2 separate regions of the Homo sapiens genome follow, and region 2 is linked to region 1. Evidence: fine-mapped expression QTL. A gene starts in region 1. The other region holds a variant in brackets. All regions are shown on one strand. Distances are between the middles of the regions.

Region 1 (4,403 bases):
GGCCGAGGCAGGCAGATCACGAGGTCAAGAGATGGAGACCATCTTGGCCAACATGGTGAAACCCTGTCTCTACTAAAAATATAAAAATTAGCCGAGTGTGGTGGCTTGCACCTGTAGTCCCAGGTATTTGCGAGTCTGAGGCAGGAGTATAGCTTGAACCTGGGAGGAGGAGGTTGCAGTGAGCTGAGATCACACCACTGCACTGCAGCCTGGCAACAGAACGAGACTCTGTCTCAAATAATAATAATAATAATGAAAATAATAAAATTTTATTGTGGTTCTTTTCTACCAATGTATTCCTCACCCTTCAACATTTAAAATTTTAAGGATTATGCTTTCATGATATTAGTTATTCTCAGAACTGCTGTATGTAGTAAATAAATGTTTGTTCTCCTAGACATGGTATTTTGGCTAAGAGTGATGTTAAACTCATACTAATTTAGATTTTACAGTACAATAGACTGAGAAAAAATTGCTTAAATTTTTTGATTTTAAAACCTAATTCTAGTAGTAAATAAATTATAAGAAATGAAATTGGGTGAATGATCTGGTTAGTTTATTTAAAAGTCAGGGTGTTTGGCTTTGTTATCTCTATGCCACTATATTTCAATATTTTCAAAATAGAGATAGTGTGCATTTGAATTAAGGGCTTTATTTGTAAAGTTTGGAAATGAAAATCAATTCTTTCTAGAATATAAATTAAGACTTATTCAGATAGAGAGATTTTGGGGGTTTTGTGTGTGTGTACAACAAATCCTTATTTGAATCATCAAAATCAATTGTCCTGCTCTTTATAAGACTGTATTTTAGTATTTAACCCTATCATTTTTATGTAACTGCGTGGTTTAGAAATATACAAATAATACTTAAGACAACCCATACGTTCAAACATCCAGGTGGGGCCTTACCGGACATCCGTTGTTTGATCAGGAAGTATTAAAATAATCTGAAGCCAATGTTAAGTCTTTCTGACTATTATTAGCTGTTTGAAAAGATCTAGAGTCTCTTTTATCTGTAGATGCCTTAAAGTATTCATTAGAAATTAAATGTTTAAATACATTTGAAGATACCATTATACTCAAGTAAAATGGAAAAAGAGAAGCAACAAAATGAAACAAAAAAATCTGTGAAATCAGATTGTTTGTGAAGAAACCCGCATCTTATTTGCATGTGAACTTTGACCTTATGGCTCCAGAATTTTTAGTGAACCAGAAAATCTAAAGATACATTTTGCATCTATATACAGATACCACCTTCATTTATCTACACAATACAAACTGTTTCAGTGCTTTGATTAATATAAAGGGAAAATGATTAATTTGAACATGTCCTGAAGCAAAAATCTCTTTTTACTCTATGGTATAACATTAAATTTGAAAACTCTTGTATTGATACCACTCGATCTGCTTTCTCATGTCTTTTTAAAAAAAGATTTCAGTGATACCCTTAGTCACTTTGCAAATCACAGACTTTCCAGTCTTTCTGATTTCAAATACGCTAGTCCCAGTTTCATAATACACTGGCCAGAAACTATATCACTGGACATTCTTGCTACTGCAACAGGTGTTTGTCAGTTTCTTAAGTTGCTTTCCTTTCCCCTGAGGTGGTGTTATTTCCGGTACATTCCAAAGGCTCTGAAAAAAACTTTTGCAGTCTCTTGCCAAGCCAAATCATGACTCCAGCCTCAAAGTTATTTAAAATCCATTGTCTTCCGGGTTTGTTACACAGGCAAATTGTGTACGTCTTTCTGTATTTCCAATTTTTAGCAACTAAAATATTTATTAAGAGTTTGGCAAAGCTAAAACTGAAAATAAAAGTGATTTTTATTCAGAAGCAAATGCTCTGGATGTCTGAGAATGGGGTTGATTCTATTCCTGGCAAACCTGATGCGAAAAGGTTGTCATCATCCACTTAGACCACCCTGAAATTTGACATTCGCATAAACAAAATAGACCTTGATAACTTGCAGTGTACATGCTTATGTTTTGCCCTAGAAGTCAGAGCTCTGCATGCACTATGTGGCTAAGCCTTTTATTGCAGAACTTCGGAGTAAAATATTGGTAGAGAGACCATCAACCAATTGCTTATGTATATAATTTCCTCCCTCATCATACATTTCACCCTTACTTCTTCAAGTAAAACCCAAGCCCACCATACTATAAATCAGTCTTGGTCATATCTCATATACACACACTTTACAACCATGACAAGACAACAAGAAGACACGATTGCTCAAACCAACCTTTTGGAAGTTTCTCAGTTCCGCTGAAGGCAACCAGAGTAAGAATATGTACCAGTGGAATGTTGACGAGCTCTCTCATGATTAATCCAGGCTCACGCAGGACGAAGTTCCTTCTGGACAACGCAAGGAAAATGGCTCCACAGTTTACATTTTAAAGCATACTTTGTTGCAAAAGGGTTGTCTGCTAATGACTGTTTGTGTCAGCAGCTCCACAGGCTCTAAGTATAATCAGGAATTCTCAGACTTGGCTGCAATGATGGACACAGCCAGCTGGTGAGCATCCACGTAGGCCAGTAATGCAAGTGTAGGGCTGGAGGAACAAGGGCAAGAAAATCCCTTTAGAATCCCTTTTAAGACAGTGGCAGAAGGACAATACCAGATGCCTTTTGCAACCATCGCTGTATTCCCAGAGGTATAGGTGTCCTGACCTTCGAATTCAGCACCCCACCTCTCCCGGACTCAAACCAGAAATCTGGGTCTATTCAGTCTTCAGTCCTCCCCATCTCTCACCCCACCCCCACTCCCACATTCAGCCCATTCCAATTCCTACAGATTTTATCAACCAAATAGTCCTTGTACCTTCTCTCTGTCTTGGGTCTTAACCATTCTATATCTTTTTTCAGATAGTCCCTCCTGCTCAAAAGCCTTTAGGGGCTCATCATCACATAAAAATATATTTAAACCTGCCTAATCTGCCTAATATGACAGGCTTTACTGGAATCTGCATGCTTTGTTGTATGTTAGTATTGTCTTTTACGATCCTGTTTTTGTTTTTTGTTTTTTTTTTTTTTCAGAGTCAGGGTCTTGCTCTGTTGCCCAGGCTGGAGTGCAATGGGGTAATCATAGCTCACTGCAACCTCAGCCTCCTGGACTCAAGTGATCCTTTCAGAGTAGCTAGGACTACAGGCACTGCCACTACAGCAGGCTAATTTATTTTTATTTTTTGGAGAGATGTGGTCAGGCTATGTTACCCAGGCTGGTCTCAAACTGCTGGCCTCAAATGATGATTCCACCTCGGCCTCTCAAAGTGCTGGGAATGCAGGCGTGAGCTACTGTGCCCAGCCTCATTCAGCTTCCTTTATTCAACAACCTGCTGATGGTTCCCTGTATACAGCTTTCCTACCTCCATGAATTGCTCATACTGTTTGCTTCTCTTGGAATACTACTCCCCTCCTTTCCACTCAGTTCACACATCTCTCAGCTTGATCATCCTCTCCTCCTGGGAGAAAAATTCCATATCTTCCCAAAGCTGTGTTACGTTTGTCTTCTCTGGGTTTCCATAATATACTGTGCATATCTCTACCATTGCAATGACCATATTGTTTTGATTTTTTCCCCTTTGTGTTGGTGTCTTCTTCATTCTTTGGCCTCGTGAGTTCATTTATAGAACTTTAGAGTCAGGTAGTGTGATGCCGCCAGCTTTGTTCTTTTTGCTTAGGATTGCCTTGGCTATATGGGCTCTTTTTTGGTTCCATATGAAATTTAAAGTAGTTTTTTCTAATTCTGTGAAGAAAGTCAATGGTAGCTTGATGGGGATAGCATTGAATCTATAAATTACCTTGGGCAGTACAGCCATTTTCACAATATTGATTCTTCCTATCATGAGCATGGAATGTTTTTCCATTTATTTGTGTCCTCTTTTATTCCCTTGAGCAGTGGTTTGTAGTTCTCCTTGAAGAGGTCCTTCATATCCCTTGTAAGTTGGATTCCTAGGTATTTTATTCTCTTTGTAGCAATTGTGAATGGGAGTTCACTCATGATTTGGCTCTCTGTTTGTCTGTTATTGGTATATAGGAATCTTGTGATCTTTGCACATTGATTTTGTATCCTGGGACTTTGCTGAAGTTGCTTATCAGCTTAAGGAGATTTGGGGCTGAGATGATGGGGTTTTCTAAATATACAATCATGTCATCTGCAAACAGAGACAATTTGACTTTCTCTCTTCCTATTTGAATACGCTTTATTTCTTTCTCTTGCCTGATTGCCCTGGCCAGAACTTCCAATAGTAGGTTGAATACGAGTGGTGAGAGAGGGCATCCTTGTCTCGTGCCAGTTTTCAAAGGGAATACTTCCAGCTTTTTCTCATTCAGTGTGACATTGGCTGTGGGTTTGTCATAAATAGCTCATTTTTTTTCGATGGGTTCCATCAATACCTAGTTTA
Region 2 (4,403 bases), 240 kb before region 1:
ACAAAGGGAAACAGGATTAGAATCAGGCAAAGGAGTTTGTAAGTTCTTGGGTGTGGAGCTTGCTTTCTCCTGGGAAGAGTTGCCTTTTGAGATGCTGTCATCCTTTGAGGACAGGAACCAAAGGAAAAAAGCAATGAGGGAACTTCTTTTTGTCCCAAATCGCCTGCCAAAAATAAGTCAGTGATGCTTGTCAAGCTTGGACGTGTCTTGTTCATACAGTCTGGTAATAGCCAGCTTTCTTGTGGAAAAATATAGCAGGCACCCATTGAACTTCTTAGATGTTCTCTCCTCTTTGAGCATGTAACCTTTCATCTACATTCTACAAAATAGCCACTTTGATCTTCCTACTCAACAATTTAAATGGATCCCCACTGCCTAAGAAGGAAAGCAGAAATCTCTTACCCTAATGTTCTCGTCCTTCCAAAATCACATTGCAGCCTGTCCTTTAGTCTTATTTTCCATAACTCCACTTCACTTGGTTTGTTCCATTCAGAATGTGCTTTTTGTTTGTGGGCATACTTAATTAGGCTTATCTGCTGGTCTACTCTGATTATTACATAGTTTTGTAATATCTAAAGCTAAAAATGGATATATATATATATACTTATTAAAATGAACTTGATACACATGTGTGTGTACATATACATATATATATAAATACCTTTCATCAATACTTTTGCAAAACTTTCATTTAGAGACTTTTAGAAACAAATTGTGTGTATGTATATTATGACAGGTTGGCACTGATTTTAATTTCTTTTAGGATAATGAACCTTTCTGATTTGGCTGACTTGTAGTAGTGGTAAATACTACCTGTTGGAAACCTGTATTTAATCTAACAGATGCTCTAAAAGTCTGTACTTTCTATGCAGCATGGTCTGGCAGAAAAACACTTTTGGAGTCAGACAGCTCAACGCCTCAGTTATGTAAACAAGAGGTATCTACGTAGATACATAGCTAGATTCCTAGATAGATGGTATCTATTATATCCCAGATGGTTTTCTAGGTCAGGGAATATACTGGAAGATCTGGATTTGAATACAGACTTCAGTTTGAATGGAGCTTGACAAGTCAATTACTTTCAAGTTTAAGTTCCTCCTCTGGGAAATAGCACAAATAGCACACATGACACCACTTCATAGGATGTGCTAAAGAGTAACTGGCTTAATGCTGTTAACCTCCCAACCTTGTTCGTATGACAGTGCTTTCTGAGGCTGAAAATCTGATCTTCCCAGGTTTGACCAGTTGCTCTGTTTAGCTAAGGTCAGCCTGTTTATTATTTGGGACAGTCCCAAGAGAGGCAAGATTAGCATCCTTTGAACTGAAAGGAACCCTTCTCATCTGGAGGGTGAAGAAGGAAGAACAGAATGTCCTGGTGGCATTTAGAATGGAATCTCTAGCCCTTCTCCTTGGACACTGTTTGCGTCATGAAAAAAACTGTAATATGGAGACGCTGTCTCCAGCAAGAAATTTATGGCTATATTTCAATAGTTTGTTCAAATTTAGACCATGCCAGCTTCTATAGTTGATGAAAGCCTGAATATCCAAACACTATCTCCATTAATAAAATCTCAATGTTCCCAGAATGACGAATGTCTGAAAACGGGTTTTATTGTGAAAGGAGAAGCTCATTTGGTGTTTCCTCTTCTCTCTTTGCTTTTAGAAGAAAAAAATGAGAAAACTCTGTAGTCAGCCAAAAGGTCTTTGCCCCCTACTAATTCTTTTTTTAAAACTGTCATGAGAAGATAAGAGTTTTAAAGTTTTGTATTCTATCTCTGGGTCAGGGATCAAATATTTGCATTTGTAAAGAAATCAGAATTGTCTTTGAGAGGTGGAGATTCCTGGCAATGTTCAAGCTCACAAGTTGCACAATTCTGTAATGTGAAGTACTTCTAGTCACCTCGATGATGGAGAGGGTCACAGCAAAGAGATCTGGCCACATGGGTGGTCAAAAGTAGGATGTGCTTAGAAAGAAGTTGTTTTTCTTTCCATTTTCTATTATTAAGTATTTAAAAACTGTGATGTAGTCACA[C/T]TGTTTCTGCATTGATACTGTGCTTTCCTTTCTCCCTCCCACAGCCCTCAGTAACCCAGACGTTTATTCTTCTATCTACCTACCTTCACTTCCTATCACCCAAGGGTTTCTGCCTTTTAGGTTTTCTTTAGACTGAGATACTGTCTCCCTAGCCTTTCTGCTTTCCGGCTGGCCGTTAAAACAATCACCCAGCCCTTTTCTGTATTATAAGTGTTAATTCTGATCTCAGTTGGGAAATAGGCATATGGGAAAGATACAGGCATACCTTGGAGATATTGCAGATTTGGTTCCAGACCACTGCAATAGAGCAAATATTGCAATAAAGTGAGTCACACAAATTTTTTGGTTTCCTGGTTCATATGATAGTTATGTTTGTAATATAGTCTATTAAATGTGCAATAGTAGTATGTCTTAAAAAAGTATGTGCATACCTTAATTTAAAAACAGCTTATTTCTTTAAAAATGCTAACAGTCATCTGAGCCTTAAGTCATAATCTTTTGAAAATATTTTTTCTTAAATTAAAAAAATTAAAGTATCTTAAGTCTGCTTCTTAATTTTTTTTTCAAATCCTCCACTATTTTTTTAGATAGGATCTTCCTCTGTCACCCAGGCTGGAGTGCAGTGGCACAGTCTTGGTGCATTGTAGCCTCTACTTCCCAGGCTGAAGCAATCCTCCCACCTCAGCCTCCCAAGTAGCTGGGCCACAGGTGTGAACCACCATGCCTGGCTTTTGTATTTTGGGTAGAAATGACATCTCGCTATGTTGCCCAGGCTTGTCTCAAACTCCTGGGCTCAAGCAATCCACCTGCCTTGGTCTCTCAAAGTGCTGGGATTATAGGCGTGCACCACCATGCCCTGCACAGGTCATGATCTTTTTGCTGGTGGAAGGTCTGGCCTTGATGTTGATGGTTGCTGGCTGATGACAGTGGTGGTTGCTGAAGATTGGGGTGGCTGTGGCAATTTCTTAAAATGAGACAGTAATGAAGTTTGCCACGTTGATCGATTCTTCCTTTCACAAAAGATTTTTCAGTAGCATGTGATACTGTTTGATAGCATTTTACCTACAGTAAAACTTCTTTCAAAATCTGAGTCAATCCTCTCAAACCCTAATGCTGCTTTATCAACTAAGTTGATGGAATATTTTCAATCCTTTGTTGTCATTTCAACACTGACAACCAGAATATATTCTATCTCCAGAGACCACTTTCTTTGCTCCTCCATAAGAAGCAACTCTTCATCCATTAAAGTTTTATCATGAGATTGTAGCAATTTAGCTACATCTTCAGGTGCCACTTCTGACTCTTTCTCTTGCTCTTTCTCCCAAATCTGCAGCAACTTCCTCCACTGAAGTCTTGAACCCTTCAAAGTCATCCATGAGGGTTGGAATGAACTTCTTATAAACTCCTATTAATGTTGATATTTTGGCCTCCTACTATGAATCATGGATGTTCTTAATGGCATCTAGAATGGTGAATTCTTTCCAGAAAGTTTTCAACTAACTTTGCCAAGATCCATCAGAGAAATCACTATCTATGGCAGCTCTAGCTTTACAAAATATACTTATTAAATAAGACTTGAAAGTCAAAATTACTCCTTGATCCATGGGCTGCAGAATGGATATTGGGTTAGCAGTCATGAACACAACATTAATATCCCTGTACATGTCCATCAGAGCTCTTAGGCGACTAGGTACATTGTCAATGAGCAGTAATATTTTGAAAGGAATCTTTGTTTCTTAGCAGGTCTCAACAATGGGCTTAAAATATTCAGTAAGCCATGATATAAACAGATGTGTTATCCAAGCTTTGTTGTTCCATTTATAGACTACAGGCAGAGTAGATCTAGTATAATTCTTAAGGGCTGTAGGATTTTTGGAATGGTAAATGAGCACTGGCTTCTGCTTAAAGACACACCAGCCGCTTTATCCCCTAACAAGAGAGTCAGCCTACCCTTTGAAGCTTAGAAGCCAGGCATTCACTTTTCCTCTCCAGCTATGAAAGTCTTAGGTGGAATTTTCTCTCTGCACTTATTGGTCAGTTATGTTGTGAAACTAACCTGCTCTAAAAATAACATTTGGGCCAGATGTGGTGGCTCATGCCTATAATCCTAGCACTTTGGGAAGCCGAGGCAGGTGGATAGCTTGAGCTTAGGAGTTTGAGACCAGCCTGGGCAATATGATGAAACCCTGTCTCTCCAAAAAATGCAAAAAATTAGCCGAGCATGGTGGCAGGCACCTGTAGTCCCAGCTACTCGGGAGGCTGAGGTGGGAGGATCACTTTTGAGCCCAGGAAACAGAGGTCATAGTGAGCCGAGATCACACCACTGCACTCTAGTCAGGGCAACAGAGCCAGACCCTCTCTCTAAATAAAT

What was found. PIP is the estimated chance that this variant, and not a neighbour inherited with it, causes the effect. A credible set is the group of variants that fine-mapping cannot tell apart.
Region 2: its variant is the best candidate, but not a certain one, in a credible set for the expression of MUSK in tibial artery (GTEx, PIP 0.62).

What each region holds. Positions count from the first base shown.
Region 1 is chr9:110,666,823-110,671,225 of GRCh38, reverse strand. It overlaps MUSK (muscle associated receptor tyrosine kinase), which reads right to left and starts at 2,435. Exons shown (of 15, transcript NM_005592.4): 1 at 2,243-2,435. The coding sequence starts at 2,321.
Region 2 is chr9:110,909,755-110,914,157 of GRCh38, reverse strand. The region is part of intron 5 of LPAR1 (lysophosphatidic acid receptor 1); the gene reads left to right. Among named protein-coding and RNA genes, the nearest start is that of LPAR1, 130 kb to the left of the region's middle. The variant C/T (reference allele first, on the strand shown) is at 2,033.